Linked DNA regions of Homo sapiens: region 2 is linked to region 1. The links come from fine-mapping of genetic effects on gene expression. A gene starts in region 1. The other region holds a variant in brackets. All regions are shown on one strand. Distances are between the middles of the regions. Region 1 holds the start of ILK (integrin linked kinase). Region 2 holds the start of MRPL17 (mitochondrial ribosomal protein L17).

What was found. PIP is the estimated chance that this variant, and not a neighbour inherited with it, causes the effect.
Region 2: its variant is fine-mapped to the expression of ILK in whole blood (TOPMed, PIP above 0.99).

The regions. Positions count from the first base shown.
Region 1 is chr11:6,601,549-6,605,809 of GRCh38, forward strand. It overlaps ILK (integrin linked kinase), which reads left to right and starts at 2,226. Exons shown (of 13, transcript NM_004517.4): 1 at 2,226-2,274; 2 at 2,632-2,812. The coding sequence starts at 2,724. RRP8 (ribosomal RNA processing 8) reads right to left here and starts at 2,068. Exons shown (of 7, transcript NM_015324.4): 1 at 1,856-2,068; 2 at 304-667; 3 at 1-54. The coding sequence starts at 1,954. RefSeq lists enhancers at 1,301-1,842, 1,838-2,027, 2,618-2,857, 3,088-3,247 and a silencer at 2,098-2,307.
Region 2 is chr11:6,681,415-6,685,414 of GRCh38, forward strand. It overlaps MRPL17 (mitochondrial ribosomal protein L17), which reads right to left and starts at 1,926. Exons shown (of 3, transcript NM_022061.4): 1 at 1,709-1,926; 2 at 1,333-1,401; 3 at 1-988. The coding sequence starts at 1,882. The coding sequence ends at 704. RefSeq lists enhancers at 1,468-2,230, 1,647-2,086. The variant T/G (reference allele first, on the strand shown) is at 1,965.

The DNA of each region.
Region 1 (4,261 bases):
CAGGGCTTTGCTTTGGTGGATCATTTGTAGTACTACCCTTCCAGGCTTTGGGACCTACAGGGAGGGAGATGGGAAGGTGCACATGAGGCAAGATCTCTTACATTCGGAGTCACGGCAAGTCATCCCAGCCATACCTCTGTCTTTGAGATCGTGACTGTGGCCTGCAGAGAAGTACTTCTTATTGCCTGAGTACACCATTAGCCCCAATCCTAATGGCAGTGGATAATCACTCTTGTATGTAGAACCAGCTGACCCCCCGACACACACACACCAACACACACACATATACACATCCAATGGTACCTGTTTGGTCAACATTGTCCAGGTGCTGGGCTGAATTTATAGGGGCATGTTTCTGGCATTTCCTCTTTCTTTTCTCATCTTCAGCAGAGTCACTGCCAACAAGAGCCTGTTTGTGGCATTTCTTCTTCCTTTCTACTTCTTCCTCAGAGTCACTGCAAGGTGGGCCCTGTTTTTGACATTTCTTCTTCCCTTTCTTCCCTACTTCAGCAGAGGCACTGGCAAATGATGCCTTTTTGGGGCATTTCTTCTTCCTTTCCTCCTCCTCCTCCTCAGAGTCACTTATACATAGGCTGGGGGGATGCTGGGAAAGAGATGCTGCCTCTAGGGCCCGTAATGTGGCCAAGAGCTGGCGGCGCTTGGAGCCCTGGAGGAAAACAGGGGATGACAGTGGGCCTAAAGAGAATGGATGAGGCCTGGAGAACAAGAAGGGAGAGATGTGGACCTGATTCAGACTGGCAGAAGCATCTGAATTCTTCCCAGTCAAGCCTGCCAGAACCCAGAAGAACTTTTATGTCACCACCCCAACTTCTGGGAAGCTGGAGAGCAGAGAAACCACCTATCCCACTTTCTTCAATGTGTAAATGAGCTAATGGAGGTTTCCCCAAAGGAAAATGCAAAGGCCACAAGCAACAAGACCAAGGCCAGAGACCAGGAATTCCAACCCTTCACCTTGAGCTTTTGCCTAGAGCTGATACATTTCTGTAAGAGGTAAGGAGGCTTCTGAACACAGGAGACACATGATCACACACGTATATTAAATATTTAACATGTCTCTAGCTGCAGTGTAGAAAACAAACTGAAGGGGAGAAATTGCAGACAGAGAGGCCAGCGGCTTGGACAATGGTAATGGGGCTAGGGGATGAAAAAGGAGGAAACAAAGCAGGCCGATTCCATGTTGGAGGCAGACTGAAGGGTAAGAAAAGCCTGAGGAAGCAGGGCCCTCACATCTGCAGAGGCTCAAAGGAGAAGATGTATTGTCGGGAAGGCTGATTCTGTGTTGCAGTCCTACCAGGTAATCCTAGGCCAGGCACTTACCCTGATTCTAAGTTTCCCACACCCTCCTTTGAACAATGATACTGACAACTCTTACTGTCTCCAATCCATCCTCCACACTGTAACCGACGACCCTTTCAAAATACAAATCTGAAGAAATAATTCCATTGCTTAAAACCTTTCATTGGCTTCTATTCTCAATATACGCAAAACTTCTACCTCTTGAACTTGAACAGCATATATGCCCCTTTCATTTACTATGTATTTCAACCACAAGGACCACTTGTGTTTGTGACTCTGACAGAACATGCTCTCTTGTCCCAGGGCCCTTGTACGTACTTTTTCCTGTCTGAAGAACCCTCTTCGCTTCACCAACTTCTACTCAACAACTCTCTCTGACCCAACGTCAGTTTCTTTTGGAAGTTCTCGGATCTTCAGATCAGGACTCGCCCTTAACGGTGCCACAGGTGTCCCTCCCCGCAATACACACAGCGCTGGGATCCACCAATGTCCGCTTCGCGGCCTGAAACAGCTCCCATTGCTCCCGCGAGTCACTCACCTTGTTTTGCGAGGAGGCCGCAGGCGGAGGTCGTGAGATTACGGGCCCAAGGCCCGCGGCTACTGGGGCCGCCTCGGCCCACTCAGGCTCTTCGAACATGAGGGTCGGGAGGGCAGGGTCGCCGAGTCCCCGCTCTTCTCCACGTGCACAGCGCTCCTCTGGAAGTCGGAGCGCTCAGACCTGCCAGAACCGACCCGGAAACCAAAGCGTGACAGCCAGGGGTTGCTAGAGCGGCCGGCGCGGCGCAGCGAACCATCGAGTTTAGCCAGGCGCGGCTAGAAGGGCAGGGAGGCGGTGGGAGGGGAGGGACGGAGGCCCGCGCTGCCCAAGAGCGCCACGGGCGGGGCGGGGCCGGCGGCGGGCTGCGGGCGCGGCCGGACGGGAGTTCCCCGGAGAAGGATCCTGCAGCCCGAGTCCCGGTGAGTGCGAGAGGACCCGCGCCCCCTGTCACCCCTCACTTCTCCTGAGTCCCAAGTAAGGAACGGAGCCAACCCTGGGGAGGACCCCCGGTCCCCTCTCCCAGAGTATACGGAGCCTGAACCTCCCCACTTCCCCCAACTCTGTTCGCGGATAGGGTCTAGTTGCCTGCTCTCGGACATCCGTTCAGCAGACACTACCTCTTCGTCACCCCCTGCCCACCCTGACCCGCCTTTACCTCGCGTCTAGAGGACACAGCCAGGGATCATCCCGCAGCCCCGAACTCCTTCACAGACCCCCACTAGCCGGGGACGCAGCTCAGGCCCCCTACCCCCAACACAAACACTTCTCTCCTGTAGAGGATAAAGCTTGGGGTTCATCCTCCTTCCCTGGATCACTCCACAGTCCTCAGGCTTCCCCAATCCAGGGGACTCGGCGCCGGGACGCTGCTATGGACGACATTTTCACTCAGTGCCGGGAGGGCAACGCAGTCGCCGTTCGCCTGTGGCTGGACAACACGGAGAACGACCTCAACCAGGGGTGAGCTGAAACGGTTGGTGGATGAGAGGAAGGCTAGAGATCTCCTGGCTACGTGGAGTGGAGTGCTCATGTCTGGTGGTGGCGGCTGCCTTTGCTAGCCAGTGTAATGAGTGCTAAGCATAGCCTGTGGGGGGCAGAGGGTTTTCACAGAGGACGCAGTTTGAGCTGAATCTTGACTGCAGAATAAGAGTTTCACAGGCAGAGGCTACAGAGAGCTTTCCAGCCTCAGTAGACTGCATGGCCAAAGGCTAGGGGGCAAGGCACAGAGCAGAGAGAACAGGAAATTGTCTGGAGTTCCATATGGCTGGAGGATAGATGATCTCTGTGGGTCGGAGCATTGGGTACAAGAGGAAAAGAACAGGACATAAGACTGTAGAGGTCTCCAAGGATCAGCCAGATCATGCAAGCATATTTAGGCTATAAGAAGGTCTTTATTTTAAAAGCAAGGTTTTAAAGCTGTATAGTGACATAATGAGATTGTCCATTTTTCAGTATCGTCTTGGATGCTTTGTGAAGAGCAGGTGGAAAGGAGGCAATTGCCTAGTTCATCGTAGAAGTAATGATGTCTTGGACTAGAATTAGGGTGAGTGAAAAAGAGAAGTGATCAAATTCCAGAAGTCTTTAGGACGAAGAATTGTGGAACTTGGTGTGGGGAGTGAGTAAGGGCAAAGATGAGGACCAGGGTTCTGGCTTGGGAACTTGGTTGTTTTTACTGAGATGGAGAAAACTGGAGGATGAGGCATTTTATTTTGGACATGTTAAAGTTAAGGTGACAATACAGCAAGGTGGAAATGTTGAGTGTGTTGTTGGTTATGCAGATTTGCAATTCAGGGGAGGAATCTGACTTGGAGACACAGATTTGAGAGCTATCAGCATATAGATAGCATATATATATCATATATATAGATGATACTTGAAGACGTGGTTGTGAAGGAGAACGTCTCAGGAGAGTGGAAGGCAAGAGGTCAGGGGACAGGAAGCCTGCACGACAGAAAAGGAGCAACCGCAAGTTGAAAAAGAAATAGGAAAATGTGTGAGTAAAGCTTACAGAAGAGAATGTTTTAATGAAGGGGAGGTAGTCAACGGCAGTACAGGCTACTGAGAGATCAAAGAACATTAATATTTTAAAGTAGCCATTGAATTTACAGTTGGGTTTTTTTTTTTTAAGTTAAGGGGTACATGTGCAGGTTTGTTGGATGGGTAAACTCAGGTCATGGAGGTTTGTTGTGCAGATCATTTCATCACCCAGGTATTAAGCCGTGGCACCCATTAGTTATTTTTCCTGATCCCTCCCTCTTCCTACCCGCCCCACTCTGGTAGGCCCCAGTGTCTGTTGCTCCCCTCAGTGTGCAGTTAGGATGTATTTGACCATCTGTGAGTGTTGTTTCAGAATAATGGGTGAAGAAATCAGACTACATTGGGTTCCTTAATTTAAGGCACTATGATGAA
Region 2 (4,000 bases), 80 kb after region 1:
GGAGCTTATCCTGGAGCCCAACATCCTCTGCTGAATGTCTCCACCCCTTTGGCCAAACTGGTGGAACATCTGAGTTCTTGGGTCCTCTCCTCCCAGGCCCATTCAGGGGGTTGAAGGGAACACATTAAGGTAATGTGTGATCCTGCCTCAAAACAGAGGACTGATTGCAGTATCCCCTGAAGGTTCGCAGGGTACTAGATTGTTTAAGGAAGTTTCACTTGCAGATTGTCACTCCCCTACCCCTGTCAGGAAGTAATCTTTCTCTAAGAAATCCCAAGCACTCATCTCTAGGAGACCAGATGTCAAAACACAACCACCTCTGGCAACATTTGGAATTATAGGATGCATTCCCATGTAAACTGGCATTAAGAAAAACAAAATTGCACTAACCAAAAATAACCCAAATTTAAGGACCAGAAGCATAAGCCATGAATTTACTATCTCAGGTAGACTGAGCATTTGGATAATTCTCATTCTCCAGAAATCCCACAGGAAGGAAAAAATAAATAAATTTATATATATTCATATAAAGACTTTTATCTATTGTGCAAAGAGAGGGTCATCTGGCTCCCCAGAAGGTTCTCAACCCCATCAAGACTGTCCATTTTACATCTCTAGCTCCAGTTCTTCTCAGAGAGTAAAAGTGCTCCAAAGGCCTGTGATCATGGGTACTGATTAAGGGCTGCAGACTCTTCAGATCCAGTTAAATCCCTGGTGTTTGAGCTGTGTGGGAGCTGTGGTTGCTTGCTTCCTGGCTTTGCCTGAGGTCCTGCCGCAAACCCTGCAGCAGCTGGTTTAGGAGTGTAAGGTGGCTGTCTCTGCGAGGCAGAGGCAGGGGTGGGAGGCAATTCCCTTTATACTCGATCACTGCCATCTTGGCCCGATCCAAACTCCGATTTGGGATCTGCAGCATTCTTGTGTAGCCCCCAGTTTGATCTTTGTACCGAGGGGCCAGTACTTGAAACAGCTTTGGGATCAAATCCTTCTCCTAGAGGGAGAATTATCCAAGAGACAGCAGAGTCAGGCAAAACTGCAGAGGCATTTAACTTTACACCATTCCCAAAGGTAAGGTCCATCCACACATAGAAAGACCTCCCCCTCCCCTCGCCAATCTGGCATAGTCAGTGTTACACAAAGGGGTCGTTTATAGGCAGTTGTGCAGAGGTATATTCACATCGACTTCAACTAACTTAAGACACAGTTTCTAATTTAGTTAGCAGCACTGGCCCATAAGTGAGTACCCAAGTTTAATTCTGCATAGTTCTCCTTTTTCCAACCCCCACCCCCAGGGAGCAAAGGGTGGGATTTTGAAGGCAGATAGGTCGCACTCACTGTGAGCCAGAAGTCAGCCATGCGCATGGCTCGTTCGTTAGTGTCTCCCAGCTTCCCATAGTCGATGAGCTGTGAGGACATAACATCACGGATCCAACCGAGCAAGAAAACAAGGTGCCAATCTAATTTCTCTAATGCCGGAAGGCAATCCATTCTTTCCACTAGCCAAGCATCTCCAATCTACGCCACCCCTAACTCCGCAGCCCTAACCAGTCTTCCATTAGAGGCGATGGAGGGGCGGGTTCAGCCCAAGGTTCTGGGGGACTCAGACTTGGGGAATGGTTTACCAGGTTGGTCCCGGTCCCTTTCCACTTGCAGCCGGCTCCGCCCCCTCAGACCAGACCCGCAGAGTGGACAAGAGGGCCGCGCTCCTCACCTTCTCCGCGTAGCCCCTCATTTCGTCCACACGCGCCCATGGTGCCTCGATGCGTTCGTGCCGCACCAGCCCTGTGAGCAAGTTCCGCAACAGATGGATGCGGGACTCGGGACCGAGGCCCATACGGCGAAATACGCGGCCATGGGAGATCGCTGCAGCGACCGACAGCCGCATGTTTCCAACTTCTGCCCGCCCCTTGGAGGCCGGAACTGGAAACTGGAAGGTAGAGCCGGTGGCGGCAATTTCAGGGAACGCA[T/G]GCGCCTTAGCTCGGAGCGTGGTGAACGTGTTTGCGCATGCGCATCAGAGCCTGCCTCGTTGGCAATCTCGGGAAGGGCGGAGAAACGGTGTTGAGCTTTTCCAGAGGCGGCGAGCTGGGCGGGCTTCAGGCATCCAGAGCGCTCTGTGGCGGCCGAAGAACCAGGCGCCCCCTAGTGTGGGATAAGCGGGCCATCGGGTTTTTTTTGGGGCTGCGTCAGCCAGTGGCATTTAGGGCGATGGGGCGCTCCGCCGCGGAGACTCCTGGGAAAGAGAGCGTCTGAAGAGAAAGGCACCCGGAGGGTTCGGGGTCCTGCGGGCTGACGGCCCTACCGGGTCCAGCAGTGGCCAGCTGGCCTGGTTGACACCTGTACGCATTGTTTTTAACACAGTGATTTTCAGTAGTAATGGTGAGATGGATAATAACGATGCCCGGAAAAGAAACGCAGATAGTGAAATTTTTCTTTTATTGAAGTAATCACTCCAGTTAAAAAAATTACAGCACTAAAGGGAAAAGTAGTAGATTGTTTTTAATTACACCAGTGTGTCTTTTTAAGGGGAAAAAACATACCTACACATTTATGTGTTAATGAACAATAATATTATAGTTTGTTTTTGAGCCTTAACATCTGCAAATTGGCAATGACTGTCAAAATTATTCCTTGTTATGGGTTGAATTGTGTCTTCCCCATGATTCTTCCCGTCCCCAAAAAGCTATGTTAAGTCCTAACCTGCAGTAACTCAGAATGTGACCTTATGTGGAAATAGGGTCATTGCAGATGTCATTTGTTAAGATGAAGTCATGCAGGCATAGGTGGGCGCCTAATCCAAAATGCCTAGTGTCTAGCTAGCTAGATAGATAGACACATATATACGTACATACATATATGCAGGCCGGGCACGGTGGCTCACTCCTGTAATTCCAGCACTTTGGGAGGCCGAGGCGGGCGGATCACCTGAGGTCAGGAATTCGAGACCAGCCTGGCCAACATGGCGAAACCCCGTCTCTACTAAAAACACAAAAATTAGCCGGGCGTGGTGGCTCATGCCTGTAATTCTAGCTACTCGGGAGGCTGAGGCAGGAGAATAGCTTGAACCCGGGAGGTGGAGGTTGCAGTGAGCTGAGATCGGGCACTGCACTCTAGACTGGGCGACAGAGTGAGGCTCTATCTCAAAAAAAAAAAAAAAAAAAATGCGCATGAAGAGAGAGAGATGGACACAGGGTGATGCTGACCAGGTAAAGACAGAGACATACAGGCAGAAAGCCATGTGACCTTGAAAGCAGAGATTATGGAGTCAAGCAGTTGCAAATCAATGAATGAACACCAAGGATTGCTGGAGCACACCTGAAGCCAAGGGAAAGGTATAAAACGCATTCTTTTTCAGATCTGTCAGAGAGCATGACCCTGCTGCTAACACATCGCTTTCTTACTTCTAGCCTCCAGAGCCACAAAACAATAAATTTCTGTTGTTTTAAGTTCCACAGTTTGTGATAGTTTGTTACAGCAGTCTTAGGAAATGAATTCACTCCTCTTTACATGTACATATTCAGTAGACGTATAGATTTGTCACTTTGTCAGCTTATAGGTGACCAAAGAACACTTCTTTGCTAATTTTAATTTTGAAAAGTTTCTTTAATATGAAGGAACAAATATGCAAATAGGAAAAGTCATGAACATATAAATACATTGACAGATTTATACAAATCACACTTCACAATTAAAGAAATTTACAATAAATTACAGAAATTACAATTACCATTCATGTTTTGTTTCTTTGGGAGCAATTCTTGTAGTTTTCAATTGTCTTTGCAGTTGAAAAATTTCACTAAGATGTTTTCACCAGGATATATATATATTTTTTTGAGACGGAGTTTCTTTCTTGTTGCCCAGGCTGGAGTGCAATGGTGCGGTCTCGGCTCACTGCAACCTCCACCTCCTGGGTTCAAGCGATTCTCATGCCTCAGCCTCACAAGTAACTGGGATTACAGGCGCCCACCACCATGCCTGGCTAATTTTTTTTGTATTTTTAGTAGAG